Linked DNA regions of Homo sapiens. The protein of the gene in region 1 interacts with the protein of each later gene in a biochemical or structural test. Each region holds a gene or a part of one and is shown on either strand. Other genes may lie near its edges.

What was found.
Region 2: the proteins of FLT4 (region 1) and LRRK1 form a complex in vitro, tested with the Homo sapiens proteins (2 studies listed by BioGRID and IntAct, with this or other methods).
Region 3: the proteins of FLT4 (region 1) and VEGFD form a complex in vitro, tested with the Homo sapiens proteins (2 studies listed by BioGRID).

The regions. Positions count from the first base shown.
Region 1 is NC_000005.10:180,624,255-180,634,519, forward strand, and holds part of FLT4 (vascular endothelial growth factor receptor 3 isoform 1 precursor), read right to left. Parts: intron 7,621-10,265; coding exon of another isoform or gene 7,525-7,620; coding exon 7,428-7,524; intron 6,546-7,427; coding exon 6,301-6,545; intron 6,084-6,300; coding exon 5,971-6,083; intron 5,852-5,970; coding exon 5,689-5,851; intron 5,582-5,688; coding exon 5,442-5,581; intron 5,174-5,441; coding exon 5,005-5,173; intron 4,746-5,004; coding exon 4,628-4,745; intron 2,012-4,627; coding exon 1,857-2,011; intron 1,778-1,856; coding exon 1,615-1,777; intron 1-1,614. UniProt on the Homo sapiens protein: Tyrosine-protein kinase that acts as a cell-surface receptor for VEGFC and VEGFD, and plays an essential role in adult lymphangiogenesis and in the development of the vascular network and the cardiovascular system during embryonic development.
Region 2 is NC_000015.10:101,045,092-101,055,356, reverse strand, and holds part of LRRK1 (leucine-rich repeat serine/threonine-protein kinase 1), read right to left. Parts: intron 9,377-10,265; coding exon 9,205-9,376; intron 6,864-9,204; coding exon 6,700-6,863; intron 6,265-6,699; exon of another isoform or gene 5,714-6,264; coding exon 5,574-5,713; intron 4,724-5,573; exon of another isoform or gene 3,647-4,723; coding exon 3,397-3,646; exon of another isoform or gene 2,968-3,396; intron 2,900-2,967; exon of another isoform or gene 2,436-2,899; coding exon 2,269-2,435; intron 2,135-2,268; coding exon 1,937-2,134; intron 412-1,936; coding exon 134-411; intron 1-133.
Region 3 is NC_000023.11:15,359,201-15,369,465, forward strand, and holds part of VEGFD (vascular endothelial growth factor D preproprotein), read right to left. Parts: intron 4,120-10,265; coding exon 3,909-4,119; intron 1-3,908. UniProt on the Homo sapiens protein: Growth factor active in angiogenesis, lymphangiogenesis and endothelial cell growth, stimulating their proliferation and migration and also has effects on the permeability of blood vessels.

The DNA.
Region 1 (10,265 bases):
TCACTCTTGTTGCCCAGGCTGGACTGCAATGGCACAATCTCAGCTCACCGAAACCTCCGCCTCCTGGGTTCAAGCGATTCTCCTGCCTCAGCCTCCCAAGTAGCTGGGATTATAGGCATGTGCCACCACGCCTGGCTATTTTTTTTGTATTTTCAGTAGAGTCGGGGTTTCTCCATGTTGGTCAGCTGGTCTCGAACTCCTGACCTCAGGTGATTGGTCTGCCTTGGCCTCCCAAAGCGCTGGGATTACAGGCGTGAGCCACCGAGCCCGGCCTGTTTCTGGAGCTCTGTCTCCCACCCTTCAGGCTCAGGACCCGGCAACCCATCCTACACAGGCTGCCAACACCAGCTTCCTGTGCCCACTGTCCCTCAGGCACATGTGCACTCTGTCCCGCTTCTCTGTGCCCCTTCCTGCAGAGGCCACCTGGGATCTGCCCACATGGCTGCAGGCCCAGCACAGTCCCATGCTGCCCCCGGAGGCATCTCTGCCCAGCCTCTCCCTCTCTCCTGCTTTAGGAGCTGCGGCCTCCCTCTGGGCAGGGTGTGCATCCCCAGCAAGCTTGGCCTCCTGCCAGGATTGGGGGGGTAGTCTCAGGGCCCCAAGGGAGGCTCATATCTGCCCCTGTGGAGGAGCCGAGCAGGGACCCCCCGAAGGGCTCCATCACTTGGCACAGAGCATACAGGTGGCACACCCAGAAGGAAGGACATTTGGAGGTGCTGGCAGTGAGCTGCATGCCGCACGATCTAGAAGAATACCTATGAACCTTGGACATCTGGGGCCGGCTCATGCCACCCCTACTGAGCCTCCCCCACTGACCACACCAGAGCCACAGCCAGTGGGGCTACCCTCATCTCCCATGTAGGTTCCCAGCTCCCATCCCGCCCCAGTTTGATACTAGGAATCTCTTGCTAAAAGGCAAACCTGAGCCATGTCTCCACTTCTCAACACCCTTCACTGGCTCCCTAGTGCCTTCAAGCCCTGCCCACCTGGGCGTCCTCCTCTCACCCCCTGCTTGTCTAAATGTCCTGCTGGCATCCCGCTCAGTGGAGGGGAGCACGGCTCAGCAGGTGGCTGGGTCCTGTTGCTTACAGCTGTGCCCCTGGGAAAGCCGCCTCCCTTCTCTGACCCTATTTCCCTGTCTCTAAGGGGATGTGAGTGGTGCACAGATGAGCTGAGGCCCATGAGCACACATGGTGTGCCGTGGGGCTCAGTGCAACCATCCCAGGGGCTCAGGTGACACCCCCCCAGGTCCCCACCCCGCTGGAGGTGTCCTGCTGGGTGCTCAGAGACATGTGCTTCCTTCTCCCTCCAGATGATGCAATTACGTGTCCAGAGGTCTTCGCTCTTGAGGGAGGTGGGCAGGGGCCAGACCCATCCTGTGTCCAGCTTGGCCAGCTGATGGAGGATGGGTGCAAGGGAGGCTCTGAGCCTCACTCAGGCGAGGTGAGGCCAGGGATTGGCTATAGCTGAAGGTAGGGTTCAAGTTCAGAGCAGGGCCCTGAGAAGGGGTACAGGGAAGACCTGGGCAGTGAGGGGTGCTGTAAAGGAGGTTCCTCATGGCTGAGGCTGGGGGCTGTGGCTGTGCAGGGGACCTGAGGCTGGAGCTGTACTCACAGACTACGCTGGGCAAACATCTTGCAGGGTGTCCAGGGCCGCCAGTGCCACTGGATGCTGAGAGGCAGGGGCACCCCGTAGGCCGTGCAGGTGAGGGCCTGGCGGCTGTGACGCGAGTAGATGCTGGGGGAGGAGGCCTCCTTCTCATGTATCTGGGGGGGCACTGTGGGCACACAGATGGCCGGTCAGCTGGCCTCCAATGCCAGGCCGCCCACCCGTGCGCTCTCCCGTCCCTGACCTACCATTCACCACCAGCTCCAGGCTGATGTTGCGCCTCAGGCCAGCAGCGGAGTTCCACAGGGCGAGGGTGTAGGTGCCTGTGCTGGCCTCTGTCACCTCCTTGAGCACCAGGGCATGTGGACTGTGGCGCCCGGACAGTGCCTTTCCATCCTTGTACCTGGCCAGGGAAGGGAGGTCAGGGCCCATACAGATCCCACCACAGCCCCAACCTCATGCTGGCACCCCCACCCCAAATACAGTTGGGAGGAGGGAGGGGCTGGCAGGAGTGCAGGGTAGGACGGGGAACACTGGTCTGCGAGGGGATGGTCTAAGTCCCTGGAGATGGTCTCCAGGCCGTATCTGCCAGGTGTGACAACCGTGTCAGGCGGCCGGCTCGGGCATTGGTCACTGAGGTCTGCAGTAGCACCTCCTGCCTTGCCCCAAAGCCTCTGAACTCTCCACAAGTAGTGAGATGACCATGTCACTGCTGGGGCAGCCGCCTTCTCTCCCTGCCTGTGGCTGCAGACAGCCTTCTTCAGCCAGGCTTGCCCAGCCCAGCCCAGGAGGGTCCCACACACCTGGTTCCTCCACCCAGCTGGGCACGGCCTGGAGACCCCGTCCTCTTTCTTAGACACCTGAAGGAGTGGAGGTGCAGTCCCTGCGAGCACAGTCTAGCTCCTTGACATGTGCGTGGCCCCTGCAGACATGTGGGCTTCTTGCTGCCCACACCCCGCCCCCAGGCCTGGCTCTCACTGCCTGCCTCGCTGGGACACTCATTTCTGTAGCCAGGAATCTGCAGGGTTCCCTGCCTCCTTCATTTGGGTGGGGGCGTGCAGCCTTCCTGACTGTCCTATGCTGTGGCCTGCCCCTGCCTTGCTGTGTCTGTTTGCCCATCGTCCCCCTGGGCTGGGAGCCCCACGAGGGCAGTGCTGCCTCCTGCAGAGTTGCGCCCAGATGCCTACATGTCTGCTGCACACGTGAGGAAGCAGATGCCTCAGCCCCAGAGGGTGTGCTGGGGCCCCTGCAGGCACCTGTCTCTGTGGCCTGGACTCTGTATGGAGATGCTCCTCCTTTGGACAGGTGCCTGCCCCTGGTGCTGGGTGTGGCAGGCCAGAGATACACCACTGTGTCCTGGGAGAGGCACAGCCCTCGGGCAGAGACCAACAGAGAAGGGGAGGCAGGGGCCCATTCTCAACTTGGACATCACAGCAGGGGCCCGGGGGGAGTGCCTGGCCTGGGGTCGCAGAGTGAGGCAGGGCAGGGCAGGGGCGGAACTGAGGTGGTGCTGTCTGCATGGCTCTGGTCCTGAGTCTGCCACTTGCTGGATCTGAGACTCCTTCATTGCCTCAATGGAGATGACATGCACCTTGCAGCTGTCGTGAGGTTTAACCCGGACAGTGACAGCAGCGTGCTGGACACACTGCGGGTGCTTCGGAAGCCAAGGACCAGCCCATCTGTGTGTTTGCTAGACCGTCCACCCAGTCAGTGCTCGCCATCGTCATGTGCTGGTGCCATAGGAAGGGTGGGCACCACAGGAAGGGTGGGTGGCTGCCATAGGAAGAGAGCCAGATGTGGCAGGAGTGAGCCAGTGGAAAGCTGTTCTGAGAGGCAGCTGCCTGAGGACTGGGTAGACCCTGGACGCAACAGAGCTGCCACCTGCCCAGAGCAGGCTCAGTAATGGTGGCCTTGGAGGGCAGGGGACAGGGCCCAGGGGTCTCCAGGAGCTGTACCCGTGAGTGAGGCTCCAGGATCTGCCAGTGCCCTCAGGACTCTGCCCCAAGGGCCTTGGCACTGACCAGGTGCCTTGGATGGACACCGAAGTCTGTGTCCTCAGTGGGAGGGTCACACTGGGCTCAGGGCCAGGACACCCTGGGCCTTCCATCCCAGGAGAGACGAGCCCCCAGCCAGTGCAAGGGGCCCTGGCTGAGGAAACCCTGGGCCTCTGCTTGCCCAGCTCCAGGAAAAGTTGCCCTGCCAGGAGGGAGGTGCCCAGGCTGAAGAGAAGGAGGCTCTTGGGCTAGCTCAGTGCAGAGACCCCTCCTGGGGAATTGGCGATCAGTTAGGAATACCCTTTCCTAGCCTCTGCTTCCTCGTCTATGCAATGGGGACTCAAAGTGTGACTGACTGTGGGTGAGCCATGTGGATGACTCAGACGGCCTGAGGACGTGTTTGTGAGGGGTGCCATGCCCCCCCAGAGCCTGCAGGGAGTAGCCAGCGGAGACAGGGCCACCCCTGAGGCCTCCCTTCTCTGGGCCGCAGCACACGCTTGCAGATCGGGGATCTGCGGGGACTCCAGCAGCTTGTCGGCCTCCTGGAAGCTCTCTCGCTCGCTGCCGTGCAGCACAGGCCCAGCCCAGGCAATCTGTCAATTCCCTGTGGCATCTCCAAATTTCTGGACAGAAGGGTCCTGGGAGAGGCAGCCTCGCAAAAGGAGGCATAGGGAACGCTAAGCCATTGCTGCAGGGCAGGCCCTGGAGATTCTGCAGGGCAGAGAGGGGCCCAGCGGTCAGGAGGCAGTTAGGAAAAGCCCCTCGCTGTGCCCACCACACCCACATGTAACAGAAGGCTGGTACTGAAACCTTTCACAGTGTGGCAGGAACAGACAGACCTTCCATCTGAAATATCACATTATGGGCGGGTTCCTTGGGGGGTCTCCTGAGAGAGGCCCCCGCCATGCCTGGTCTCCGTGTGCAGGTCCTGACGGGGAGGACGCTGCCCGTCTTCCCCTATGGTCTGTTTTGCCCCTGGACTTGGAAGGGTATCGGCGGGGTCGGTGGGGAGCCAGGGCTGTTACCACTGGAACTCGGGCGGGGGGTACGCTGCCAGCTTCACGGGCAGCTTCACCAGCTCGTCTCCTGCCGTGGCCTCCAGGATGGGTCCTTTGAGCCACTCGACGCTGATGAAGGGATTTTCTGCCGGACAGGAGAAGTCACTGTAAATCCAGGACTGACCCGTCGTGGACTGACCAGGGACTCCCCCCACGGCCCCTGCAGCCCCGGCAGCCGGACATCCGCAGACTGGGGCTGGCCATGCCGCCCGGTGCAGGAGCTGGGCAGCTCCTCTGCTCGTGGCCCTCCCTTCCCTCTGGCTGGACTCCTGAGTGCTCAAGGGCACCGTGAGCTCTGGGCCCAGGCCCACAGGGCACAAGGACCCTGGTTTCCCAGGCCATACCATGCACAATGACCTCGGTGCTCTCCCGAAATCGCTGGATGCCGTTGTTGGCCTTGCACACATACGAGCCCAGGTCGTGCTGGCTGACGTTGTGGATGGTCAGGATGCTGGAGAGTTCTGTGTGGGTCTGCTGGGAGCGTCGCTCGGGCACCCACTTACCCCGCTCTGCCTGCCCGCACCCAGGGAAGCCCCGCGTCAGCAGGCGGGCTCCTGCACAGCTACCCCACCGAAGGCACACCTCCCAGCCCAGCCAGCGGTGGCTCCGGAAGCCCTGGACCCAGGCCCTGAGTTTTCTTTGGGTGGAACACTTGCCACTCAGACCGGGGCCCCTGGGGCAGGCCTGGGCCCACACATCCTCCACGCGGAGGCCCAGTGTGTGCTGTACAGTCACAGGGACTCCTGGGGACAGGACAGCCTGGCAGCGCTGCTGACCTCACCTGCTTCCCTGGGTAGTCCCAGTCAAAGGTGACACCTGAGTTAAACTCAGCCCACACGGTGCAGTTCAGGACCAGCTTCTCCCCTACCAGCAGCTCCAGCGACTTCCTGGGCAACAGCTGGATGTCATAGAGCTCGTTGCCTGTTGACACGCACACAGTGACTCCCACGCCCTCACAGGACGACACCCACTGAGGCCAGTGAGGCAGTGACAGCCCCGTTACTGGGAACGGGGCACAGCCCTGTTACCTGTGATGTGCACCAGGAAGGGGTTGGAAAGGAAGTCCTGGTCTCCCCAGGTGGTCTCGCACTGCAGGTACAGGGCATCGTGCAGCAGTGGCGTGGACACGAGCATGCCCCGCCGGTCATCCCACACCACCTCCTGCCCGTCTGGCCACAGCACCGAGCTTTGCTGGAGGGACAAGGCCACCATCATTGCCCAGCTGCCCCTTGCTCCTGGCCAGACAGGCGGCCGCCTTTCCCAGGGGTGGGATGGGAGGGTCGGATGCTGGGGTTGGGGTGGGGCCGTACCGAGCGCAGCGTGACATTGAGGCCGGGGATGGACACCAGACAGGGCACCCACATGGCGTCCTTCCTGTTGACCAAGAGCGTGTCAGGCTTGTTGATGAATGGCTGCTCAAAGTCTATGGAGAGGGAGCAAGCTGTTGGGGAAGGGACGTGGCGGCCAGGCTGGGGGAGGGCTCCACGGGGCTGGGTGGTGCTGGTCCTGAACCAGCCACCCGCTGGAGCAGGTAGGGCCCCGTTCTCTCCTCCTGCCAGCCCAGGGTCCACAGGCTGGGGGCGGTGTGGGCCCCAGCTGCCCGGGACCCTGCTCCAGCCTGGCCCGCCTCCAAGTCTCACCTCTCACGAACACGTAGGAGCTGGCGGCCGTGGTGCCCTCGATGCGTGCCTTGATGTACTTGTAGTAGCAGACGTAGCTGCCTGTGTCGTTGGCATGTACCTCGTGCAGCAGCAACACCTTGCAGTAGGGCCTGGCGTCTGTGCCCTCGCAGTCTCGCACCACCCCCGTGTCCTCGCTGTCCTTGTCTCCGGTGGCTGGCGCCTCCTGAGCTCCTGGCCAAGCCCACTCGAGGGGGTGCTGTCCCCTGGCAGAGGACAGGAGTGGTCAGGTGGGCCCCAGGGCAGCCCATGGGGACTGTCCCTGAGAAGCCTCCCTCAGGCCGAGCCTCACCAGGTTTGTCTTACCCAGAGCATGGAACTGCCCAGGGTTTGGGCGCACACTACAGACCGTGCCCAGGGCAGGGCACTCCCCGACCCCCGGGCCTCTACCAGGCTCCCGGGGCTGGCCTGTGGCCAAGCACAGGCCTTGGATCACAGCTGGGAAGGTGGGGAGGTACCCATCTCTGGGGCCCCAGTGGGTGCTCCCAGGGTGGCTGGGAGTGGATGCAGATGACCTGGGAGGTGGCCTGGGGTCAGTGTGAGGTGTCAGGAGTGGGGTGCAGGGTGATGAGGCCCCATATGAAATGCTGATGGGGTGGGCTGGGCACAGTGGCTCACGCCTGTAATCCCAGCACTTTGGGAGGCTGAGGTGGGTGGGTTACGAGGTCAGGAGATCAAGACCATCCTGCTTAACACGGTGAAACCCCGTCTCTACTACAAATACAAAAAATTAGCCGGGCGTGGTGGCGGGCACCTGTAGTCCCAGCTACTTGGGAGGCTGAGGCAGGAGAATGGCGTGAACCCGGGAGGCAGAGCTTGCAGTGAGCCGAGATCGCACCACTGCACTCCAGCCTGGGTGACAGAGTGAGACTCCATCTCAGAAAAAAAAAAAGAAATGCTGATGGGGGTGTGTGGTTGAGGCTGGGGAGGACCGAAGTCACCCACAGCCTGGGAGACCACACGGCCCCGAGGCCACTCTGCCCTGACTCTGCCCTGGGAGGGGGCTGCCATCTGGGCCCACAGCCACCACCTCCTGCCTTGGGCTTGTGCAGCCTCTCTGGCCTGCCAGTGGGAGAGGGACCCAGTACCTGCAGGAGATGGACAGGCTGTCACCGGTGTCGATGACGTGTGACTCCTCCGTGATGTTCAAGGTCGGGGGGGTCATGGAGTAGCCACTCACCAGGCCTGGGGTGGGAGACAGGGTCAGCGTGGTGCTGGGCTGTGACTTGGCACGACGTTGATGGGGCATGGCTGGGCATTCTGCATCGCAAGCGCAGACCCCTGCAGGGCCGGAGCAGCTCAGGTTCTCAGCCAGCACCGCGTGGCCTGGCCTCACCATGTGCGCCGTGAGCAGCACCAGCTCCCAGGCGCCAAGACAGCCACGAACCTCTCCCACAGGCGCACCCTGCCTTGCCCCACAGCCCCCATCCTCAGCTACACACCGGCCCTGGACCTAACCCCAACCTCTGACCCCGGTGAGCTGAGCGGCTGGCATGAAGGAGCGGGGGAGGGGCGCTGGAGTGTGTCACCTCCACATCACGGCCCCTGCAGTGCTGCTGCCTGAGGCCCTCCCTCCTGAACTGCAGCCCTACACCCGCTGCTTCCCAGAGGGTCCGCACATCCCAGGTCCTCCCCGAACCACGCAGGCCTCGCCCCCTCCTGCCTGCTCTCTGCCAGGGGCCTCGCCCCCTCCTGCCTGCTCTCTGCCAGGGGCCTCGCCCCTTCCCAGGCCACGTGGTGTCACCTCACAGGTGTCCTTTCGCTCCTCAGCTTCTCGCACCCTCACAGACCCTGCTGGCTGCCCCAGCCTCCTCCGGGCTCTCCCTGCCCAGGCCTCCCTAGACACCCCCAGGTCTTCTCACAGGGCTCTTCCTCAGACATACAAATAAACCCGCCTCATCTGGCTGAAACCCACCATCAGCCAGAGACTGTAGGCTGGCCGGGCTGGGCCTTCTGTCCTGCAGGACTCAGCCCTGCTGCCCCCACACCCTCCTCCCCGTGAGGTGGTGTGTGTGTGTGTGTGTGTGTGTGTGTGTGTGTGTGCACACGCGTGCCTCCATGTGCATCTGTAACTGTAGGCCTGGGTGTGTGAGTCTGTGTGTGCCTATGTCTGAGTGGTGTGTGTGGCTTCCTGCGTATGTGCAAACATGCATGCATGTTTGTGTATCTCGGACATGCTGGCGTGTGTTCACACATGAGTGTGTATGTGGTGGGATCCCGGTGTGGGTGGGAGCAGGCCCCAGGGGAGGTCTGGGTCTGGAACTCTGGCAGATGCATCCTGCCGGGGCCATCCTGAGACAACAGGAAGGGAGGGCTGCATGGCCAGAGGCCCAGGGCTGCGTCCTGTCCCTCCCCCAGGTCCCTGTCCTCCTGGGGGCACAGCCCACTCTTCTGCCCCCAGGCCCCTCCCGTCCAACACGTCCCTTGGGGTTTGAGGCAGCAGTAGTCTAGCTCCCTGAGGCCCCAGGGTCCCGCCCTGAAGCTAACGGGGGTGGGGTGGAGCCCAGGGAATCCTTGACCCCAAGCCACCCTGGGACGCAGCACCAGGACGGCACCTGCTGCACACCAAGATCTCATTTCGGCCTCACACGGGCAATGTGGTCACCGGTCAATGATCTCTGGCCTCTCCCTTCTTCTATCCCTCTCTCCTGGCCAAACCCTTCCAGGCACCACTTCACTACGGGTCCAGAGCAGGAAGGGCCTTAAACCACACATCCAGACCCACTGTACAGACTGGGACACTGAGGCCCTCCAGCCACCCTCAGAAGGCAGCGCCTCGCCTGTCTGCTGCTGTGACTACCACCGAGTCTTTGCTTTGCCAGCCCTCCCTTGGGGCCCCGAGGTGGAAGGGGGTTGTGGGCTCTGCAGCCCCTTCCCCTTGGGGGTGCCAAGCCCTCACATGCACCACAGCGGGGCCTGGGCACTGGCAGCCCGTAGCTTGCACCCCTGGGGCTGCCATGAGAGGAGTCTGGGCCAGGGGCTGGGGGATCCCTGCAGTGAGGTGGCTCCCCTCAGGTGGTGAGGGGCTAAGAAGGAATCCCTCTGAGCTGGGCTTTGAAGGAGGGGGATTTTTTTTCCAGGTAGTGGAAAGTAAGTCCATGCCAGGAAGACAGCTGGGCATGTATGTGGGCACCGGAGTGGGTGGTGGTCTGTCCTCAGAGCTACAGAGGAGGGATGATGAGCATGGGGCTAGACCCGTCCGGATGAATAGACTCTACCTTCCCAGTGGACCTAGCGGGAGGTCAGGAGACCAGGCTCGAGGCCAGTGTCCACCTGCCCAGCCCCATGACTGCAGGAGAGAGAACATCCCGCCACCCCTACTGAGGTCTGGAGTGTTGAGCTGGTGGCCCCCTTCTCAGGAGTGCACATCCAGCAGACACCTTCCAGCTCCACCGTGCGGCAGCTGTCAGCCCAGCTTCCTCTGATGGCTCCCCTCTGTTCCCAAGATAAAGCAAGGTGGGCTGGGCCTCTGCCCTCCAGCCACTGCCTCTCTCCAGCTTCCTCTCCTAGGAGGCATGGACCTCCTCCTCCCATCCTCCCAAAGTGCCTGTTGTTTTCCTGTCTTGAACACTTGTCCTTTTTCCTGGGACATCCCTCCTTCCTTCTTTCCCTCCCGAGGGCCTCCCTCTTTAGGGTCTAGTTCAGACGCCCTCATCACTCAGGCAGCATCAGCCTCCTCCTCTTCGAGCTTCTGCTAGAACACAACCAGACTGAACTGTGGTTTTATGATCACATCTGAACAGAGGCTCAATTTTATTCATCTTCCTAAGCCCAAGACAGAGATGTGCAAAGGAGATTCAACGGGTGGATATAAGAAAGGATGGATGGGCCAGGCGTGGTGGCTCACGCCTGTCATCCCAGCACTTTGGGAGGCTGAGGCGGGTGGGTCACAAGGTCAGGAGATTGAGACCATCCTGGCTAACACG
Region 2 (10,265 bases), on another chromosome or scaffold:
CAAGGGAGAGTGAGAAAAATGTGCTTTTGGGGATGCTGAGCCCCGAAGCTTCAGGTGCCTCCAGGACTGCCCGGCTAGCCTGAGGGCTGGGCTCCTACACTGTGGGGCTGGGCCAGGGGATCCAGGCACGTACCTTCTCATCATATACAATGCGAGGCCTGATCTCTGGGGCCTGGTAGCCAGGAGTGCCCTCCACGCCTAGGGCGCCCTCATGGAATGACTGCCTCGAAATCCCGTAGTCAGATAGCTTGATGTTGATGTGCTCCTTGACGTCAAGGGACCACACCAGAATGTTGTCCGACTTCAGGTCACAGAAGATGATGTTTTTCTTGTGCAGGTAGGCCAGGCCCGAGGCGATCTGGTAGGCTATTTTTTGGGTGAGCATGTGTCCCAGGGGTATAAAGGAAGAATCTTGCAAAGAAAAACAATTTTCAAATGTATCAAAATTTCAGTTTTGATAGAATCAAATTATCATGATAACAACTGTCTTTTTGTCTTCCGATCTCCCTAGATACTTTATGATTTTTTTTCTTTTTTCTTTTATTGAGACAGAGTCTCCCTCTATCACCCAGGCTGGAGTGCAGTGGCATGGTCTTGGCTCACTGCAACCTCTGCCTCCAGGGTTCAAGCAGTTCTCCTGCCTCAGCCTCCCAAGTTGAGTAGCTAGGACTATAGGCGCGTGCCACCATGCCTGGCTAATTTTCGTATTTTTAGTAGACATGGGGTTTCACCATGTTGGCCAGGCTGGTCTTGAATTCCTGGCTTTAAGCGACCTGCCCGCCTGGGCCTCCCAAAGTGTTGGGATTACACATGTGAGCCACTGCGCCTGGCCCTTAGATACTTTATATTCCATTGACACATTCTCACTATTCACCAGACTGCCATAAAGGACAGAGAATGGCCTGGTTAAGTGAAACAGTATTTAGGATAGAAATGCTCATCGCTGTAGCTTCATTCCTGATATCTTATTCCTGGAATTGCTGGCATTTTGCTGAATGAGCAAGGGTTCGAAATCTCTAGAGTTCACCTCAGGTCAAGGCTGTCCTACGTAAAGGGGTGAGAGGCAAGTAGAAGCATTTTGTTTGGCTGGGCGTGTGGCTCATGCCGGTGATTCCAGCACTTTGGGAGGCTAAAGTGGGGGGATCGACTGAGCTCACAGTTCGAGAACGACCTGGGCAACAGGGTGAAAGGCCATCTCTACAAACAACAACAACAAATTAGCTGGGTGTGGTGGCGTGTGCTTGTAGCTACTCGGGAAGTTGCGGTGGGAGGATGGCTTGAGTTCAGGAGGTCAAAGCTGCAGTGAGCTGAGATTGCACCACTGTCCTCCAGCCTGGCCAACAAAGTGAGATCCTGTATTAAAAAAAAGTAAAGAATTCTGTTTAAAAAATTATCTTCCATTGAGGCAGAAGTGATTGATTTTCATAGCATTTCTTCTTCCTTAGTCAAAAGACAGCTACCTTTCACCCTCTGGCCACTCTGGAGTTTAGCTGCTCTTTTCTCAAGGTAAATTACTTCGACATTTTATGTTAAAATATGGTCCCACTGACCCTGCGGTCTCAGAGTCTCAGCAGCCGTGTACGTGTGCAGTTGGGAAAGTGATTCAATGCAGCTCCCGTGCTCGGTGCCCTCCCAGCGAGGCCTGTTACCATCCTCCTTTTACAGGCAAATAAACTCAGCGGCTTTCCGGACCGCGGCAGAGCCTGGTCTTAGCCGACTCCAGAGTGTGCGCTCCCCCGTCCTCGCCAAGGCTCTGCCTAGTGACTGGACCTGGCGGGGAGCCTGGCCTCGCAGCCAGGGGATGGTCACACGAGCCATGGGTTGGGCGTGCCCTGGGCTTGCCAAGGCCACCTGAGGCTCTACCCCCCGTGCCAGGCAGGAGGCGCCCGGGGCTCTGTCGGTCTCCGGGGCCGGGTGGGGCGGCGCGCCGCGGTACCTCTGGCGTTCTCGGACAGCACGGTGTTGAGGCTGCTGAGCGGCGCGAGCTCCAGGGCGAAGCAGAGCGGGTGGATGCTGATGCCGATGAGCGCCACGATGCAGGGGTGCTGCAGCGCGTGCAGCATGCTGGCCTCCTGCCGGAACTCGGAGAAGTTCTTCATGGCATCGGTGGCCCGCAGGTGCCTCAGCATGGTGTCTGCCAGGGACAGCGCAGTGTCAGCCAGTAGGACATGGGGTGCCTGCAGCCTCAGGCCTCTCTAAGGCCGCACAGAGCTTAGACCCGGGCAGCATATGTCTGAGAAAAACAGCACCAACCTGGGACCCGCTTACCTGCCGGTACGTTAGCAAAGTTCTTGAATTTTTTGATGTGGAAGCGCTTGACGGCCACAGGCTGGCCCTGGTACCGGGCCCGGTAGATGACGGTGCCACTGCCGCCCTGGCCCAGGACGCTGCCCTCGTCCTCGCTGTGCTCCAGCTTGCTGTTCTCCAGGAAGAGCCTGCCACACACGCCCGGCATCAGCCACATCCCCCCCGCCCTGATGCGGGTGGGTCCTGGGCTGGGTCATTTGCCCCAACGGCCGAGAGTCATGGTTCAAAGCCATCTGTGAGGCTGGACAGATCTGGGCCACCCCGGCCCTGCCACTTGTGGGTGAGCACACCTGGGTAGGTTATGCAGGCTTGCTAAGCCTCAGTCTCCTCTGTACAGAGGGCTCTCAGGACAGGAACGGCCTCAGAGGTGGTGATGGCTGGCACAGGGTGAACCCCACAGAAGTGGTGGCCGTAGAGAAAGGACCCCTTTGGAAGTTTTCTTCTGAAAGGTGACGTTTCCTATTTCCTCCCCGATTCTCTCTCTAGTTATGATCTTGGGTTAGCATAGGTACAATAAACTCTAAGAACAGATTTGAGGGGTCCAAGGCTCAGCGCTAGGGCTACAGACAGGAGTCAGCGTTTGACAAAGAAGGTAAACGAGGCTCTGGGTGGGAGCTCAGCGCTAGGGCTACAGACAGGAGTCAGCGTTTGACAAAGAAGGTAAACAAGGCTCTGGGTGGGAGCTCTCCCTTCTCTCCCCTTCCTGAATGCTTGAGGAGCACTGGCTGCACTTATCTGCTGGCCCTAGAGCTGGTGGGGAGGTAGGAGTGGAAAGGAGAGGCAGCTCAGGAGAGAGCAGCTCTGGCTACGAGGGGAAGGGGGAGCCGTATGGGGAGGCAGGATGGCTGCACTTGCAAAGCACTCTTCCCAGTTGGGCCTATCAAGGCCTCCAAAATGGAAAGCCGGCAGCCTGGTTCCTTTCAGGCAGCCGAGGATGGGAACCTAAAAGGTACTGAGATTGGTGGGAAGCCATGGCCGGGGCACCTGCCCGCCCCAGAGGGGTCTTCCTGGAGATCACTCGGCAACTGCACAGCGAGGAACGCCCCCTGTGACCTGCACTGTGTTCTGGGAGGGGCCTTCGGGGCATACCTGGCCGGGAAGTCGGTCATGAACAGTTCAGGGACCAGCTCCTGCAGCGGCACGGGGAGGTCCGGGTGTCTGGGGCAGGAGATGAAGTCCCGCTCGATGGCCGTCAGGACACAGTCTTCCATGTCGAAGTACTGCACATCCTCTGATTTCTCACTGGGGTCCGTGTGCTGGGCCCAGGCTGTCTCGCAGACCGGGCAGGGCACGTACTGCTCCATGAGTGGCGTCCCGTCGCTCTCTGTGGCTGTCAGGGCTAAATAAGGACAGAGCAGGAGACAGCTTCACAAGAAGGTGGTGCAGGAGGGCCCCCCGAGCAGCACTCTGCACCCCAGGCCCTGAGGCCTTCGCAGCAGGGGAGCTGCCTGTCCTGGCCTGTACCCAAGAGACAGGCTGAAACCCACTGCCACATTCGGGTGCCTTTTTGGAGAGCGCAATTGTTTGTCCTGAAAGATGTGTCCAGGGAGGGTTCAGGATGCTTCCGAGAACTGTCCAGTGGTCGGGACACTGAGCAGGCTGGCTGGGGGGCCTGAGAGGAGTGGGGGGATCCCTCCTGCATGACTGGGCCCTAACAGGTCATCGCAGACTAGGTGTGAGCTATCCTCCAACCATCACGGCAGTGGGGAAGGCACCCTTCTTACAATTAGAAACATCAGGTTTACAATGTCCATGAAGGGCAATGCAGGGGCAGAAATGAGTGCAAATTATCATAGACGAAACTCAGTCACCGGACACGGGATTCCCCCACGCCTCTGAGAGGAGGTGCAGAGAAACACCCTCCAAGATGCCCTGTGGAGGTGCCCTCAGGGCCGGCCAACTGCCTGCTTCATGCAAGGTAGGAGGTGGATGCCTAGAACTTTCCAGGCACATCTGATATCTGCAGGTCCATGTGTAAGGCATCCCGTTGGGAGGGGCCCCTGGCTGGGGATGCTGGCTCCAGGCGATCTGTCTCAGGTGCTCACCAGAGCCCTTTCCATCTCAGGTGACTGTCTAAGGGACCCACCTGTCAAACTGCCCAGCACCTGCTGTGTGGGGAACACTGGCTGGTGGGGAGCTGCAAAGTGCCCAGAAGGGTTCACATGGGCCTAAGGGCCCCCTTAGACAGCCAAGTGCCTCCCAAATCACCATGACACGCACACCCAGCTGACTTCTCCGAGGGCTCCTTTCTAAGCCTTTTTTCCTTGTAGGTCACCCTTCCTGCCAACAGTGTGAAGGACCCCAACCCTGACAGAGACCAGACCCTGGGATCTGGAATGTGTATCCTGAGTGCATTCTGCCACTGCCTCTTAGCCACCTTCCCTGATGCTGTCTGGGATGCAGGCATTGCATGCAGGTGAGGCCGGCCCAGGAGGCCGGGGGACCAGCCGAGGCTTGCAGGGGTGGCACTGGAATTCCAAACCCGCTCTCCCACAGCTGCTTGGCCTCCAGCGTTCAGGGGCTGAGGCTCTCGGGCAGCCTGTCCCACAGCTGCTTGGCCTCCAGCGTTCAGGGCTGAAGCTCTCAGGGCAGCCCCTCCCACAGCTGCTTGCCCCATTAAACCCCAGATGGCCTCCCCCTGGCAGGCTGCTCTGGGAGTCGTCTCCACCCCAGGAGCAAAACAAACAGGAGGCCTCAGGAACTTCACTCAAAGAGTACTTTTTTTGGGTGAACTATCAATGAAGAAACAGATCCAAAGGGTCTGAGAAGGGCGGTGTTAGTGGTTTGATCACCGCCGGGATGGGTGGGGTGGCAGGGGAGGAGAGCAAGGCCCCTTGGCTGCCACGGCTCCCCTCCATCCCTGCCCCTGCGCAGGGGATAAATTTCCATCTGCCGGCTCCCCTGCAATTTCAGCCACACAGTCCTCACTATGAAAACAAGACACGTGTGAGCTCACACTGAGCATCTCCGTGGACCACTCGTGGTACCAGTGTCATCTTTCTTGCCACGCCTGTGGGCAGCTGGCAGGCCGCTTCCCTGCACATTCCCAGTGGTGTCCGAGCCCAGTCCTCCCCGTGGGACTCCCCCCAGTGACAGAGCTGGACTTCTCGGGGGCCAGGACTCCCACCAAAGTGCTGTTAAGACCCCCTAGTTTTCTTGGGCTGAATCCCAGTGGGATTTTTGTCCACCCCGAAAGCAGCAGCCCCACCCTGATTCATAAGAAATATTAGCATGAATGAGGGCTTGCTTCTAGCATCTCCTCTTACCGGGAAACCACTGATCAATCAAGGAATTGACGTGGTCCGTGATGAAAGCCATGGCTGAGAAGTCCCTCACTTCTGATTGGCAAACAATTTTCATTCCTCCGCTTTTCTTCTTTTTCCAGTTCACGTCGGAAGATTCCACACTGCAATCCAGAGACCAAAAGGAGCCCATTGCGATCTGGCTCTGGGGGACCCTGGGATGATATCCCTACCCCCAGGGACAGGAACCAACCCCCGGGGACCTGGAGAGACTCTGTGCCCTGCAGGACCGATGGGGGACTCCTCCCTGTATGTACGTGTGCGTGGCCCTGCCTTGTTCTTGCCCCGGACCTGGCCTGGTGAAGGAGGCACGAGGAAGATTGCAGTCAGGGACGCTCAGCCTGGGAGCTGACCCTCAGGTGAGGCCCTAAGGAAGTTCCCAGACCTCCCTGAACCTCAGTATGCTCATCTGTCCAGCAGCAACCCTGGGCCTTAAGTGAGAACATCTATGCGGAAGAGGCAGGTGCCAATCAAGCCCTCTGTAAAGTTACCTCCCCTTTTCCCTTCTTCTCCTCTCACAGAGCTGAAGAATATTTTGCAAAGTTCATTGTAAACATTAAAATAATCTTGGGTGTTTATCATTCGTTAAACCTGTTGGGCTGACTTTAGGTCTACCGCTCTCAAAAAACCAAGAATAAATGGCACAGGGAGCTGAGTTCCGTGTCTGGTTATGGGCAGTGGAGATGGGGGCTGAGGAGTCTCAGCATCCCCTGTCCCCAGCCTGGCTTCTCACAGAACAAGGGGACGGGCAGGATGGCTGCAAGGTCACCATGGTGACCTGAATAACCATGGGAAGTGCCTGAGGCTCTCCTGAGCTCAATGGCCGCCACGTCCCTCAAGTCCTCAGCTGTGGCCGCCACATCTGCCTTTGCCTTTCCCGTCCTGCAAGGGGGGCTCAGCAGGGGTGAGGAGACCGGAGCCTCTGGGACACTCGTGGGAGGGCCTCACATTTCTAGCAAGCTGCCATGACGAGCCGCTCTCACGAGCAAAATTCTGGACACCAAGAGGATGAGGCATCCTGCTGACGTGGCCCCGCGGTGGCTGCTGTGGCACCTGCTGACCTGGCAGGTGGGCTTCCAGGTGTTCCTACCTGAGGTAGCCCCCATCAAAAGTGACCAGGAGCCCTTCCTGCCAATAGATGGTCTGATTTCTTTTCACTCTGAATGTGCTACAGCGATTTCTCTGGTTTCCTGTAAAACTGTAAATGGTGACTTTCCTGTTCCTGCTTTTAGTATTCTTCTTGTTTTCAAAAAGCTGAAAGACAGAGAAAAGACCCTGCTTAAGTATTCTGGGCTCCTCGCTGGCCCTGGGCAGAGCTCTGCAGAGGCCGGGCTGGGCCCCATCTTGATAAATGTCCCCCATCTTTCCCACCCTCTCCTCCCACGCTGCTCATCCCTGCTGCCAAATTGAACGTTACATTAGCTGACGGGGTCTCCAGGGAATTCCGGAAACACAGTTTTTCCAAAGAATTGAAAAATAGGCTTTCCTTTAAAATTTTTTTCCCTTTCTGACTTTACAAGCAAAAATTCATATTAGAAAATGTAGAAAATACAGAAAAATGTAAGAGGGAAAACAAAACACCAATTTAACACCAAGCAGAGAGATCATTCAGATTTTGGTATATATTATTCCAGGATTTTTTTTTTTTCTATCTCCATATGTTTGTGAAAAACAGCTGAAGCCATATTGGATTTCTAATTTCGTATATGTTAAAAAACCCCACCTTTCCTATGCCATTAAAAACACACATAAAATTCATTTTTCTAAAGTTTAATATTCTATTAAGCATAGTAATTTCCTGAACCACTCTCTTCTGGAAGTGTAAGTTGGTGCCAATCTTTTGCTCCCTCAAAACCACCTTGAGTTACATGAGAAAGGCACAGAGCTTTCTCTGATTGAAAATGATGTCCTCAGTTTAGATGTTTACCAGTCGGATTATTGGTCGAAGGGTCTGATCGTTTTAAAGCTCTGGATGTATCCCGAGGAATCGCTTCTCGAACGACGAGACTGTCCTGTGCGCTGACTACCAGTGTGCGCGGGGCCGCTCCGTGCCCCGGGCTGGGGATTACGGCTCAGCTTTTTGCTAATGTGATGGATGAAAACTGGCATCTCACTGCTGCTTGAATTTGCATGCCTTTGATGAGTGATGAGACTGCACTCTTTTCCCCCTCCTGTCACCCATCTGAATTTCAATAGGACTTCTTTCCTAACTTCGAGTGAGGGAAGCTGCTGCCCGGAAGGGCGCCCTGGCCTCCAGGCCCAGCTGGGCCCCACTTGTCAGCTCAGCCTCCCACGATGCTAGTGCTCCATGACCCTCCCTTGAGAAGACAGCGGCACACAGAGTTCAAAGGGAGGGCAGAGGAATGGGAACGTAGGAGCACCAGCGCCTGCGCCCACTCCTTCAATCAGTGCACCCTTCTGGCGCTATTAACCCATCTCCCTCCCCGCTAGCACAGGCTGCTACTGTCACGATGGACTTTAAGGCTTTTGCATTGATTTTTTTCTTACCATTTCGGTAAAAATGGGAAGATCAAAGAACATTTTTATAGAGCTAAGAAGTTATAATTCAATAAGGGCTTTCTAATTAGGATGTAGCAACAGTAAACTCATACGGAGTTTAATGTCAAGGATTTGACAGTCAGGGATTATGCCAGAGGTTCGCAAAACCAAAAGTGTGTCAGAATCCCCTGGAGGGTTGTGAAAACCAGTGCGGGGTTCCCCCTGGAGTTTCTCATGCAGTGGGTTTGAGGTGGGGCCTGAGAACGTGTGTTCCTCACACGTTCCCAGGTGAGGCTGATTTTGCTGGTATAGGAACCCCACTTTGAAAAACACCACTGTAGCAAATGTTGCTTCCATGTTCCTGCCCTGCATGAAATTAATGTTGTCTGACAGCGGGGACGCCTTCCTGTAACCCCAGGTAAACCCACAGAAGCTAACTCCTTGGGCGGGGGGTCTCCCGTGTTACCAGAACCAACGTACAGTTCTGCACAAGTGGTTCTCAAACTGGACTGCACAGGGGACTCGCCTGGGAGCCTTAAAAATACCAAAGAGGAATCACTTTTTCAAATGATGCCACACTCAAAGACCCTGATTCAATCGGTCTGGAGTGTGGTCTGTGTCTTTTAGAATTTCCTCCAGGCGAGTCTAGCGTGCAGCCAGGACGGCAAAACCGTGCTTCTAACTTCACGGTTCTCCAAGTGTGGTTGCTGGGCCGGCGGCATCACCTCGGGGAATGGATAGAAATGTGAATTCTTGGCCTCAGTCCACACCTACTGAATCAGAACCTCGGGTGGGGCCACCAAACTGTGTTCTAACAAACTCCAGGTGGTTTTGAGGTGGGCTAACACTGAGAACCACTGTTTATAAAGGGCGTGTTCTGTCTAAGGAGGGTGCTGCTTTGGAACTCCCAGGATGGCTTCAGTGGGTTGGCCAGCAGCCCATGCCACACCTGCCCCCTGGCACTACATTGGTGGCATGGCTCTAGGAGAAGGGTCTCCAGGCAGGGCCCCCCAGCAAAGGGCATTCCCCTCCCCCAGTGGTACAACTGTAGGTGGCTCTCGGGCATCTGTCTATGCAGAAACCGCAGCCATAATACCTGCAGGTCCATCTCCGCCAGGCTGATCAGCATCCGTGCTATAAACCTTTGCCAGAAGCCAACGGGAACGAAGCTCATCTTAAATACCCTCTGAATGGTGTTGGCTGTGGGGTGCCGCATACCGTGGGTGTCCAGGCCAGGTTTAGATGGAAGGAGATGGGGCAGGAGGTAGCTGAAACACACCAAGGGGGACTGGTGAACAGTGGGGCCCAAGCTCCACTGCAGGGCCCTGACCCCAGCAGATGGCCTGATCTGGGGACAGGCTGTGCTGGAACACCTCAGGCTGCTGGGTTCCTTCCTCCCAGGGCCTTTGGAATTCTGTTATTAGTAAGAGAAGCGTGGTTTATATGCTAAGAATAAATACTCCAAAGGAAAATGAAGACTGGTCCCATTAATATGAGTCTATCATGGTTTCTAAGATACTAGAATAAGGCTAAGGGAAGACATGAAAACATCATGGTCCTAAAAATGTCAGACACAGCAAATGGGACTCAATTCTCTATAAACGGGGTTGCAGTTGGGGAAATAACATTAACTTTGGTTGATGAAGGAAAAACAAACACAGCTGCAAGGTTTCAAGGACAATGCAGATATTAGGGTCAGAGTAACATTTTTGGCCTTTAAAGCTATTTATTATTCTTGGCCCGTTGACACGACGCGATTGCCTTAAAAGTTAGAATAGGCCTGTTTTGTGCGGAAGAGGGATGTTTTACGAGAACACTCTCGGTCATCATAAAAATGCTGCATCATTGCATCGGCAAGGGCTTCACGGCTGAAACCTGGGAGGTCCCTCCAAAAGGGTGCCCGAAAACCAGCAACGGCTGCATCCTGTGGGGCTGCGGGGGCAGGCACTGGACAGGTACAGGACGGCCCCTGGTGTGCAGATGCTGCACTCCTTCCCAATAAAGGTTTTACCTTCAGCTCTCCTAATCTTAAATCTATTTCAGTCCAATAAATGTCCTTAGAACTTTCTGGAAAAGACTCCCTAAACTGTAAGAAAATTCAGTGACAGCCCATGGCCCGAGCATACAGGCGCAAGTCTCGGCTCTCACTTACACGCT
Region 3 (10,265 bases), on another chromosome or scaffold:
ATGAAGAGAATACAGCAAAAGTGATGGGATACCACTTCCATGATGAAGTTAAAAAAGATTGCAGTCTTGTTTCTACTTATTGCAAGCTCCCTTCTTTCTTACTCTGTCTCACTTTCTCACACACACTCTCTCTCTCTCTCTCCTCCTTCTCCACTTGCAGGCTTTTTTTTTTTTTTTTTTTTTTAGCTTATTTTACTTTAAGTTCTGGGATACATGTGCAGAACGTGCAGGTTTGTTACACAGGTATGCATGTGCCACGGTGGTTTGCTGCACCCGTCAACCCGTCATCTAGGTTTCAAGCCCCGCATGCATTAGGTATTTGTCCTAATGCTCTCCCTCCCTTTGCCCCCCACCCACCAACAGGCCCTGGTTTGTGATGTTCCCCTCCTTGTGTATATGTGTTCTCATTGTTCAACTCCCACTTATGAGTGAGAACATGCGGTGTTTGGTTTTCAGTTCTTGTGTTAGTTTGCCGCCATGTTAGAAAGGTCCACACGACAAGGAACTTGAGGCAGCCTCTGGCCAATAGCCAGCGAGGAACTAAGACCCTCAGTCCAACAGCCTGTGAGGAATTGAGTCCTGCAAACAACAGCTGACTGAACTTGAAAGCACACTCTGCTTCAGCTGTGCCCTAAGATGCCTGCAGCCCAAGCCAACATCTTAACTGCAGCCTCCAGAGACATCTGAAGCAGAAAAACTGATCTAGGCCATGTCAGCATTTCTGGCCCACAGAAACTGAGATAAATATTGTTTTAAGTAGCTAAGTTTTGTGGTAATGTGTTATGCAACAATAGGCAAACTCTCCTTTATTTTTACTGCATTTTCAAGAACTCTCCTGAGATTATCCTGAATTCCCATATAGGGGAATAGAAGGAATAGAGAAAACGTCTGCTTGAAGTATACTGATACAATATTACCATTTGAGATGTGACCCTAGTCCCTAAATTATTCCCTTATAACATCTTCTCCATTCCTTTCTCCTTTTTCATCCCTTAATACCAATTTTTTTCATATGTTGCTTCTTCAATCACTGAAAACATAATATGAGTTGTCTGGAGCACTGCATTATACTACACAGTCTACCTAAACTTTGTTTTTTTTTATTTTTTTCCTCATAATAAAACATTCTATCCTGAGAAACTTTTTTTTTTTTTTTTGAGACGGGGTCTCACTCTGTTGCCAGGCTGGAGTGCAGCGGCGCGATCTCGGCTCACTGCAACCTCCACCTCCTGGGTTCAAGCGATTCTCCTGCCTCAGCCTCCCAAGTAGCTGGGATTACAGGTATGCGCCACCATGCCCAGCTAATTTTTGTATTTTTAGTAGAGACGGAGTTTCACCATGTTGGCCAGGCTGGTCTTGATCTCTTAACCTTGTGATCCGCCCACCTCAGCCTCCCAAAGTGCTGGGATTAAAGGCGTGAGCCACTGTGCCCAGCCCCCAAGAAACCTTTTTAAAAATTTCTGATTATTAATATTTATATAAAAAGCCTGAAGGCTGAACACATGAGAGATAAATTACTCAATTAAGTATTATTATGGTTATTATTTAATTCACTATAATTAATCATGAATCCTTGAAAAAACAAGAAACCAACCTATGAAAATATTCCCAATTTAAAATTCTACTTAAAGGTTGCTTTCCATTTGCTTTTTCTCTTTTTATAAAACTAAGTTTTGAAATTGGAGTGGTAAGCTTTTAATCAAAATCATATGCAATTATGACCAACATCACTGATTAAAGGCTTCATAACTCTACTATTCTTTACTGCTTCCCAGCAGGACTGCTCTGCCTCAGGAAATTACCTTGAAATCCACAAGGGAGAGTTGATAACAAATTCTAATTGGTGTAACATGCTGATTTCATTATTGACTGCTTCTAACTTAGTAAATAACTTCAGATGATCCCCTAGAAATTACGAGATAAATTCATAGGGTTTGCAAATTCCGTGATATTTTAATGGTTTTCTCCTTAGAAAATGTCAATGTCATTGACTTTTTTTAGATCACCTAGTCTTGGTTTTATGGTAACGTTCATGTTCATGAAATAGCTCCAGGTTCACCTCAGGCCTTCAGTCAGGTAATCTGGTTAAGGCCTTTGACCTCTAGATGAGGTGCCAACCCTTTGTTCTCATGAAGGCTATATTAATTCACCACATAGAAACATCTAGAGCTTCAAATTTCTGTCTGAAGTGAGCTCGAGGCTATGGTTCCTACCACATCAACTCACTTAGACACACAGTCATACACATGAACACTAAGAATCCTCTTCACACTCATGCCCAAGGTGCTACCAAAGAATATGTCCCCATCTATGCACAGCTCTCCCCACAGCCAACAACAGAGGTCTGTGCAACCCCAACATCTTTTTACAAATGGGAAAAAACAAATACAATTTTAGGTAGAAAGAAAAAAATAGTTTTGGCCTAGTGGTTAATTTGAATTATGCTATATATATAGTCAGTTACCAGGTAATCATGTTAATCAAATCTAGAATGCTAGATCAGCAATGCTGTAGCAGCTTCTTGTGTTGTTTTGACATGACATCAAAAAATTAAGTGCCTAATCAGAAACCACAGAACTTTACTTGACAAGCATTTTATTCATTATGACAGTACCTACTCACACTGGTTTTCTTTCTTTCTTTCTTTGTTTTTTTGTTTTGTTTTGTTTTGTTTTTTTGTTTTTTAAGATGGAGTTTCACTCTTGTTGCCCAGGTTGGAGTGCAATGGTGCAATCTTGGCTCACTGCAACCTCCGCCTCCTGGGTTCAAGTGATTCTCCTGCCTCAGCCTCCCAAGTAGTTGGGATTACAGGCATGCACCGCCATGCCTGGCTAATTTTGTATTTTTAGTAGAGATGGGTTTTCACCATGTTGGTCAGGCTGGTCTCGAACTCCTGACCTCAGGTGATCCACCTGCCTCAACCTCCCAAAGTGCTGGGATTACAGGTGTCATCCACCACACCTGGCCTGATTTTCTTTTAAAGAATCTTCATACGTTACTAGGGAACGATCATTATCCTTATTTCAAATTATGTTATTTTCTAGTCTGGAGTTTTGATCATTTTGTCTTGAGAATTTTCTCCCTTCATTATTCTCCTAGCAATACCAGTACCCAATATTACAACTCAGTGTCTAACTTTTACTTTTCACTTTTACTAAAAAATCACACAACTTTGCAGAAATAAAAAAAAAAGCTATACCTAATCTATTGGTTCGGGGAGGGGGTGGTTTTTTTGAGACAGGATCTTGCTCTGTTGCCCAGGCTGGAGTGCAGTAGCATGATCATGGCTCACTGCAGCCTCGACCTCCTGGGCTCAGCCGATCCTCCCACCTCAGCCTCCCAAGTAGCTGGGAATACAGGCACGTACCACAATGTTCAGCTATTTTTTTCTATTTTTTTGTAGAGATGGGGTCTCGTCATGTTGCCCAGGCTGGTTTCAAACTCCTGGGCTCAAGCGATCTGCCGTTCTTGGCCTCCCAAAGTGCTGGGATTACAGGCATGAGCCACCATGCCTGGCCATCTTTGGTTTTTGTCTATGTATGTATGGCAGTAGAATACTCCTTGTGGATGAATCCCCAGGTTTTATTTTCTAAGTAAACCTGATGATTGTTTTTCTATTGAGAACAATAGTCTTCCTGGGTTTTCTTTGCCCCCACATCCTTGAGTTAAATTTATTTCTATATTTTGAGATGTTCTTTTGTGTTTTTTATCTCAAAATCATATTGAATATATTTCTCTGTGAAGTAAACATTAAAAAATCAAGATTCTGCACTAATACTGGAAATCAAAGACCGACTTTCATTCTCCCTCTGACACGTGTCTGCCCTACGCAGACTTTTGGAGAAAGTAAGTGTGTTTGTCACTATCTAATAAAGAGAAAGAATTTGTCTCCACATCCACACACCTACCTTTTAGTGTTTCAATGTCATAGAAAGTTGCCGCAAACCTAGTGGACCGATGGGATGCTGAGCGAGAGTCCATACTGGTAAAACTTTTGAGCCTCAGCCTGCATCTCCACAGCTTCCAGTCCTCAGAGTGAGTAATTCGAAGTAGTTCCTCCAAACTAGAAGCAGCCCTGATCTGCTGTTCAGATCGTTCCAATGTGGACTGAGATGATCGCTTAAAAAAACAAAAATACCAGTTTAAAAACAAGTTACTAAATTTTAAATTTGTCATAATAATCTTCATTTCTGACACTTAGAAGTGTAAATACATCTGTAATTAGAGATACTATTGAAACGTATGCCAGTGCCTAGGAAAAAGGATATCTTCTAGTATTTTTGGTTTACATTCTGCTCATTTTTGATTGAATCAGAGGATTTACTTATTCTTCCTGGGTTCTCAGAACACTTACAAAGAAAATTGTAGTGCATTGAATGGTGGGCCTCAAAATGATATGTCCACATCCTAACCCACAGAACCTGTGAACATTACCTTAATTTGGACAAAGGATCTGTACAGATGTAATGAAGTTAAGGATCTTAAAATGAGATCCTCCTGGATTATCTATGTGGACCCTAAATACTGTACAATGACAAGTGTCCTTATAAGAGACAGAAGAGAAGACAGGGACACAGAGGAAGGTCATTTGAAGATGGGGGCAGAGACCGGAGTGATGCAGTGACAAGCGGGGGATTGCCTAGAGCCATCAGAAGCTGGATGAAGCAAGAAAAGATTCTCTCCAAGAGTGTTTTGAGGGCGTGCAGCCTTGCTGACCCTTCCATTTTGGAATTCTGGACTCTGGAGCTGTGAGAAAATACATTTCTGTTATTTTAAGCCACCAAGTTTGTGATAATTAGTTATGGCAGCCATAGGAAACGAAAAGATGTTTATCATATTATTTTTGTGACAGTAGCTACTGACAGTTGTTTTCATCTCTGTTATTTGTTTGAGAAATTGATCCACAAAGGCCTGGGTAACCTGACTACAGTCACAAAAAAAAGATATCAAGCCCCTGATAACCTGAATTTTCTTACTTCTAACTCTCTTTGTTTTCTTTTAAAACCTACTATTTCAAAAACATGATTTTTTTCTGACAAAATACTTTTCTGGGGTTTTACGCTCTAGAAGTATAAGAGTTTAATATTCTTATGGAGCTATCAAATACTCTTCTAGAGTTTGCTTTCCATACAGTTGCATGAACTGTATTGGCGGATACAGTGCAACTGTATTGGATGGGTTTGTAAGAAAAAAAAGACTTGGTAGATAAAAGATTTTCAGTATGTAGCCTCTTGTTCAAAATTGGGGGCTTAGTTATATAAATAATGATATATGCATACAATGAATTCTATGTGATCATCAAAACAAAGGATGTAGAGGTATATTGGGACAGAACGAATTGAGATCCTTCCTGGAATGTGCTGGAGAAATGATAAGGTGATCTATCTATGGCTAGGGCCTCCGATTTTCTCTTGCTGACCCGGTAGTTACTAGATGTTTGTTTTGCTGGGTGGTTGGAATATGCAGGCTGAGGCCATTTGTAGAGCTGGGATGAGGGAGGAGGCAAAGGACCAGTGCTGAGAGAGGAGGGTGGAAGGGAAAGGTGAATGTCAGCTGCCTGCTGCAGGGCGAGGAACAGTGAAGGAAAACAAAGATGAGCAAAAGGGGCTGTTAAAAGGCTTTGCATTGGGTAGTGTGATGTACACTCTCCTCCACTGAGCCTCAAAAGCTGTAGTTAAAATCTACATCATGCATTAGCATTTTAGGAGGAGAAATTTTTTTTAGACATGCTAGTGGACACTGAGAGTTGTCCAAAAATGGGTACTCAGAAGAGCAAGTGTGGTCTAAGTCATGTGTGATTCAGCTATGATATAACCTCTTTTAAAATTACTTATGTATTTTTACTTATGCACTTATGTACATCATATATACATACTTATATGGATATATGAGGAACATCTGGAGACATATACATGAAAATGTAAACAAAGGTTATTCTTTATTTATTTTCGAGACCGAGTCTGGCTCTGTCATCCAGGCTGGAGTGCAGTGGCACCATCTCCGCTCACTGCAACCTCAGCCTCCCAGGTTCAAGCGATTCTCCTGCCTCAGCCTCCTAAGTAGCTGGGACTACAGGAGCCTGCCACCATGCCCGGCTAATTTTTGTACTTTTAGTAGAGATGGGGTTTCGCCATGTTGCGCAGGCTGGTCTTGAACTCCTGGGCTCAAGTGATCTGCTCGCCTTGGCCGCCCAAAGTGTTGTGATTACAGACATGAGCCGCTGCGCCTGGCCAACAATGGTTATTCTTTAGATCAAGAGCTGTCAAACTATGACCTCCCAGCCTAATTTAGCCTGCTGCCTGCCTGTTTTTGTAAATCAAGTTGTATTGACACACAGCCATGTCCATTCATTTACTTATTGTCTACGGCTGCTTTCATACTACAAAAGCAGAGTTGAGAATTTGAGACAGAGACCTTCATGGCAGTTTCAATCTGAGGCCACTTGTCTTTTTTATTCTCAATTCTTTAATATTCTCAGCCATTATCATTTTCATTATTCCACCTATAATATTGCCTCTACTCTCTTTTTTGAAAAATGTTGGAGGCTTTTAATCATCTTACATGTCTCTTAAATGTGCTTTTATATTTAGCTATTTTTTCCTCTTCACCTCTCTCTAATGTGTTATGGGTAAATTAATTGGTTCATCTTTCCAATCACCAACTCTCCAATTGTTGTGAGTCTAGAGTTTACTTTGTTAAGGTTTTAATTTCAATCACCGTATTTCTAATTTCAAGCATTTCTACTTCATTCTTCTTCCTATCTACTTTCTGTTACATTTCTGTATATTCTTCCTAGTTTGTTTGTTTGTTTGTTTGTTTGTTTTGAGACCCAGTCTCATTCTGTTGCCCAGGCTAGAGTGCAGTGGCGCGATCTCGGCTCACTGCAAGCTCCACCTCCCGGGTTCACGCCATTCTCCCTCCTCAGCCTCCTGAGTAGCTGGGACTACAGGCGCCCACCACCACGCCCGGCTAATTTTGTTTTTGTATTTTTATTAGAGACAGGGTTTCACCGTGTTAGCCAGGATGGTCTCGATCTCCTGACTTTGTGATCCACCCACCTCGGCCTCCCACAGTGCTGGGATTACAGGCGTGAGCCACTGCGCCCTGCCCCTAGTTTGTCATTTCAATTTTATGAATATTATTTCTTTATCTCTTTGAGGGTTGCAAATATTTTTAAGTATTTCTTCAAATTATTTTAGATTTTAACTTTATAGGTATGACATATACTGATTATTCATTTTGTTGCTGTCATTCTTAGTAATAATTATATTAACGTGATTTGGAATTTTGGTTAGTAGTTCCATTTTCATTCAGAGATTCATTTTTCTTTCTCATTATTCTTTCTCCAACATTTAGAAGTTTTATGGTTGTACCCCATAATACCCTGGGTCCTGAATCCGAATCTTGTTGAGTATTTATGATTCAGGGATCAGCTCAGCTCACGTCCTAGTTGCAAGGAAGTATCTGCTTCCTCCTTTGCCCCGTTAAGTAATTTCATAGAAGTCACAGCTCCAGGCAGCAATGAGCAGTAACTCTTCCTTCCTCTTTCATGGATCTGATGTAGTGCACTAAAAGAGCCGATTTCCAACTGAAGCTAAATTTTTGATGGCCCCTGTCTTCTAGCCCAGATCCATAAGTCCTGCAGCTTCAGCTTCATGGCTTTAGTGCCATTTCTGTAAATGATTGTCATCTGCAGATGTTTGCCATCATTCAATCAATTTTATATTCTGTGGACTAAGAACGATCTGAAAATATGAATCTACAAGGTTATCGCACTTGGGAATCCAGATGTGAGTGTGTGTCTGTGGGTGCATGTTTTTAATAAAAGCGGGAGAATTATAAGCTGGGGGAAAGAGGCAACAGACAGGAAGAAAGAAAAAGCATATGCAGGAGAGCTAAGGCAGGACCTAGAGGGGTTGTTTTGACATAAGTGCCAGAGATAAGTGGATGTAGTGTGACTAGATGAGAGGATCACTGTCAGAAACAAGAGGAAAATACAGAATGACATGGGTTTGTAGATGGCAAGACTGCCTGGGAAGCTCAGTGAGCTCATACCTGTGATTTCTCACTTTTCGATAAAGTTTGAATCAAGGCAAAATTGTGGGAGTGAGAGGAGTGGGGAGCATGAGGATCATAGATCGGGTTTGTGAAATTGGCTTGCCACAGCTTCTTCATCTAAGAAATCTGGAGATGAAACTGAACAATTGCTAATGTCTCTGGCAGCTTTGAAATTCAATGCTTCTCCATTAAGTCTTATTTGTCAATAGTCTCTCTTTTCCTGATTATTCATTCTCTTCTAGTTGGACAGTACTCCATATACAATTCAGTCTTCAAAATAAAACTTTGTGACAATGCTGCTTCCACGTGAAAATAATGAAACCAAGCAGCTTTTTAAAGATTTTAGAGTTGAAGCATATTGAAAGGATTTTTATGTATTGAGGCAAATTTCACTCAATATTATCCAAAAATACAAGGCCAGGCATGGTGGCTTACACTTGTAATCCCAGCACTTTGGGAAGCCGAGGTGGGAGGATTGCCTGAGCCCAAGAGTTCAAGATCAGACTGGAAACATGGTGAGACCCTGTCTCTACTAAAAATACAAAAATTAGCCAGACATGCTGGTGCATGCCTGTACTCCCAGCTACTCAGGAGACTGAGGTGGGAGAATCACCTGAGCCTGGGGAGGTCAAGGTTGCAGTGAGCCATGATCTCGCCACTTGCACTCCAGCCTGGGCAATGGAGCACGATCTTGAAAAAGAAAGAAAGAAAGAAAGAAAGAAAAAGAAAAAGAAAGAAAGAAAGAAAGAAAGAAAGAAAGAAAGAAAGAAAGGAAAGAAGAAAGAAAGAAAGAAGAAAGAAAGGAAAGAAAGAAAGAAAGAAAGAAAAGAAAGAAAGAAAGAAAAGAAGGAAAGAAAGAAAGGAGAGAAAGAGAAAGAAAGAAAGGAGAGAAAGAGAAAGAAAGAAAGAAAAGAAAGGAGAGAAAGAGAAAGAAAGAAAACAGGCAGATGTATGGTTTTATTATAGTTCTTACAGGATTCAATTCAATCTTAGAAATATTTTTAAACTATCCAACTGTGAGAACTCAGGAGAAAATATCAAATCTCTGGATTGAATTAAAGTAATTAAATGGCTCATACAACTTGCCTCATCATAAAAAATGCAGTGTTTACTCAAGTACTCAGAGTTATTTAAGCTTACTTTCAACCCCAGAATTTAAAACCTAGTTTGAAATAACAGAAATTGCAGACAGTCATTTTGCTATTTTAAGTGGAAGTACTAACAATTAAACTTAAGTAGAAACCTGACAAGTAATTCATCAAGGGCATACATTTTCAAAGGGTTCAAGAATGGTTGTTTGTTCCCAATCGGCTTTCTGCACTGGTTGATTTTTGTATAATGAACTTTATGTTATCCACTTGGGTAAGACAAAAATAACAATTAAAAATGTGTTTATCCCAAATACATACTTAAACCATTGATTTCAGTGGTTTTAATTACTAAACCTTTGCCAAGTAAATTGCTCCTAATTTCTTCCTATTTTCTGATGGAAGTGCTAATCAAAATCAAAATAATTAAAAGGTTTTCATCAAGAGGAAGAAAGTGAATGAAGCAGGGTTACCAGATCTCTGCTTTTTATTACAGCGGCAGCTTTTTTATGGTAATTAATTCAAGACTACTAGCAATTTCACTCTTAAATAACAAATCATTCTCTAATTTCTTGGCTACCACAAGCCAGCTTCTAAATTGGGAGGCTTAAAGTCTTTTTAATAAGACTTCACCATCATTTGAATGTATGCTCCTTTCTGTGGTACAATTTCAAGGGTAGTCATTTCCCCTTTTGCTAATTTCTAAGTTCACACAGCATTCTCCCCTGAGGAAGCATGAGCATCTCCATAGCTTCCTAAGTATTAATTTAGGTCACGGGTGACCAAGATGGCAGGCAAGATATTTGGAAAGGTATAGTGGTGGGGTTTGTAGGAGAAACTTGGAAGTGTCCCACGTTGTGAGGAAGTCAACGGCCTTCTGTACTCCTACCAATTTCATCTCTCAATTTCCAGCCCCTCTCCTTCACCAAAAATACATATCCAGTCAAGTAACACATTCAAAGAATGAAGAAAGGCATAATTTGGGGATATCAACGAGCCTCAGGGGAAAAAAAAAACAGCAAGGGGTTCACTTTGGTTGGGCATAGAGCAAGTTTAGAAGTGGGGAATCTGGCAAATAAGTTAGGAAGAGGGGCTGGTGAAATGAGATACCACTTCACA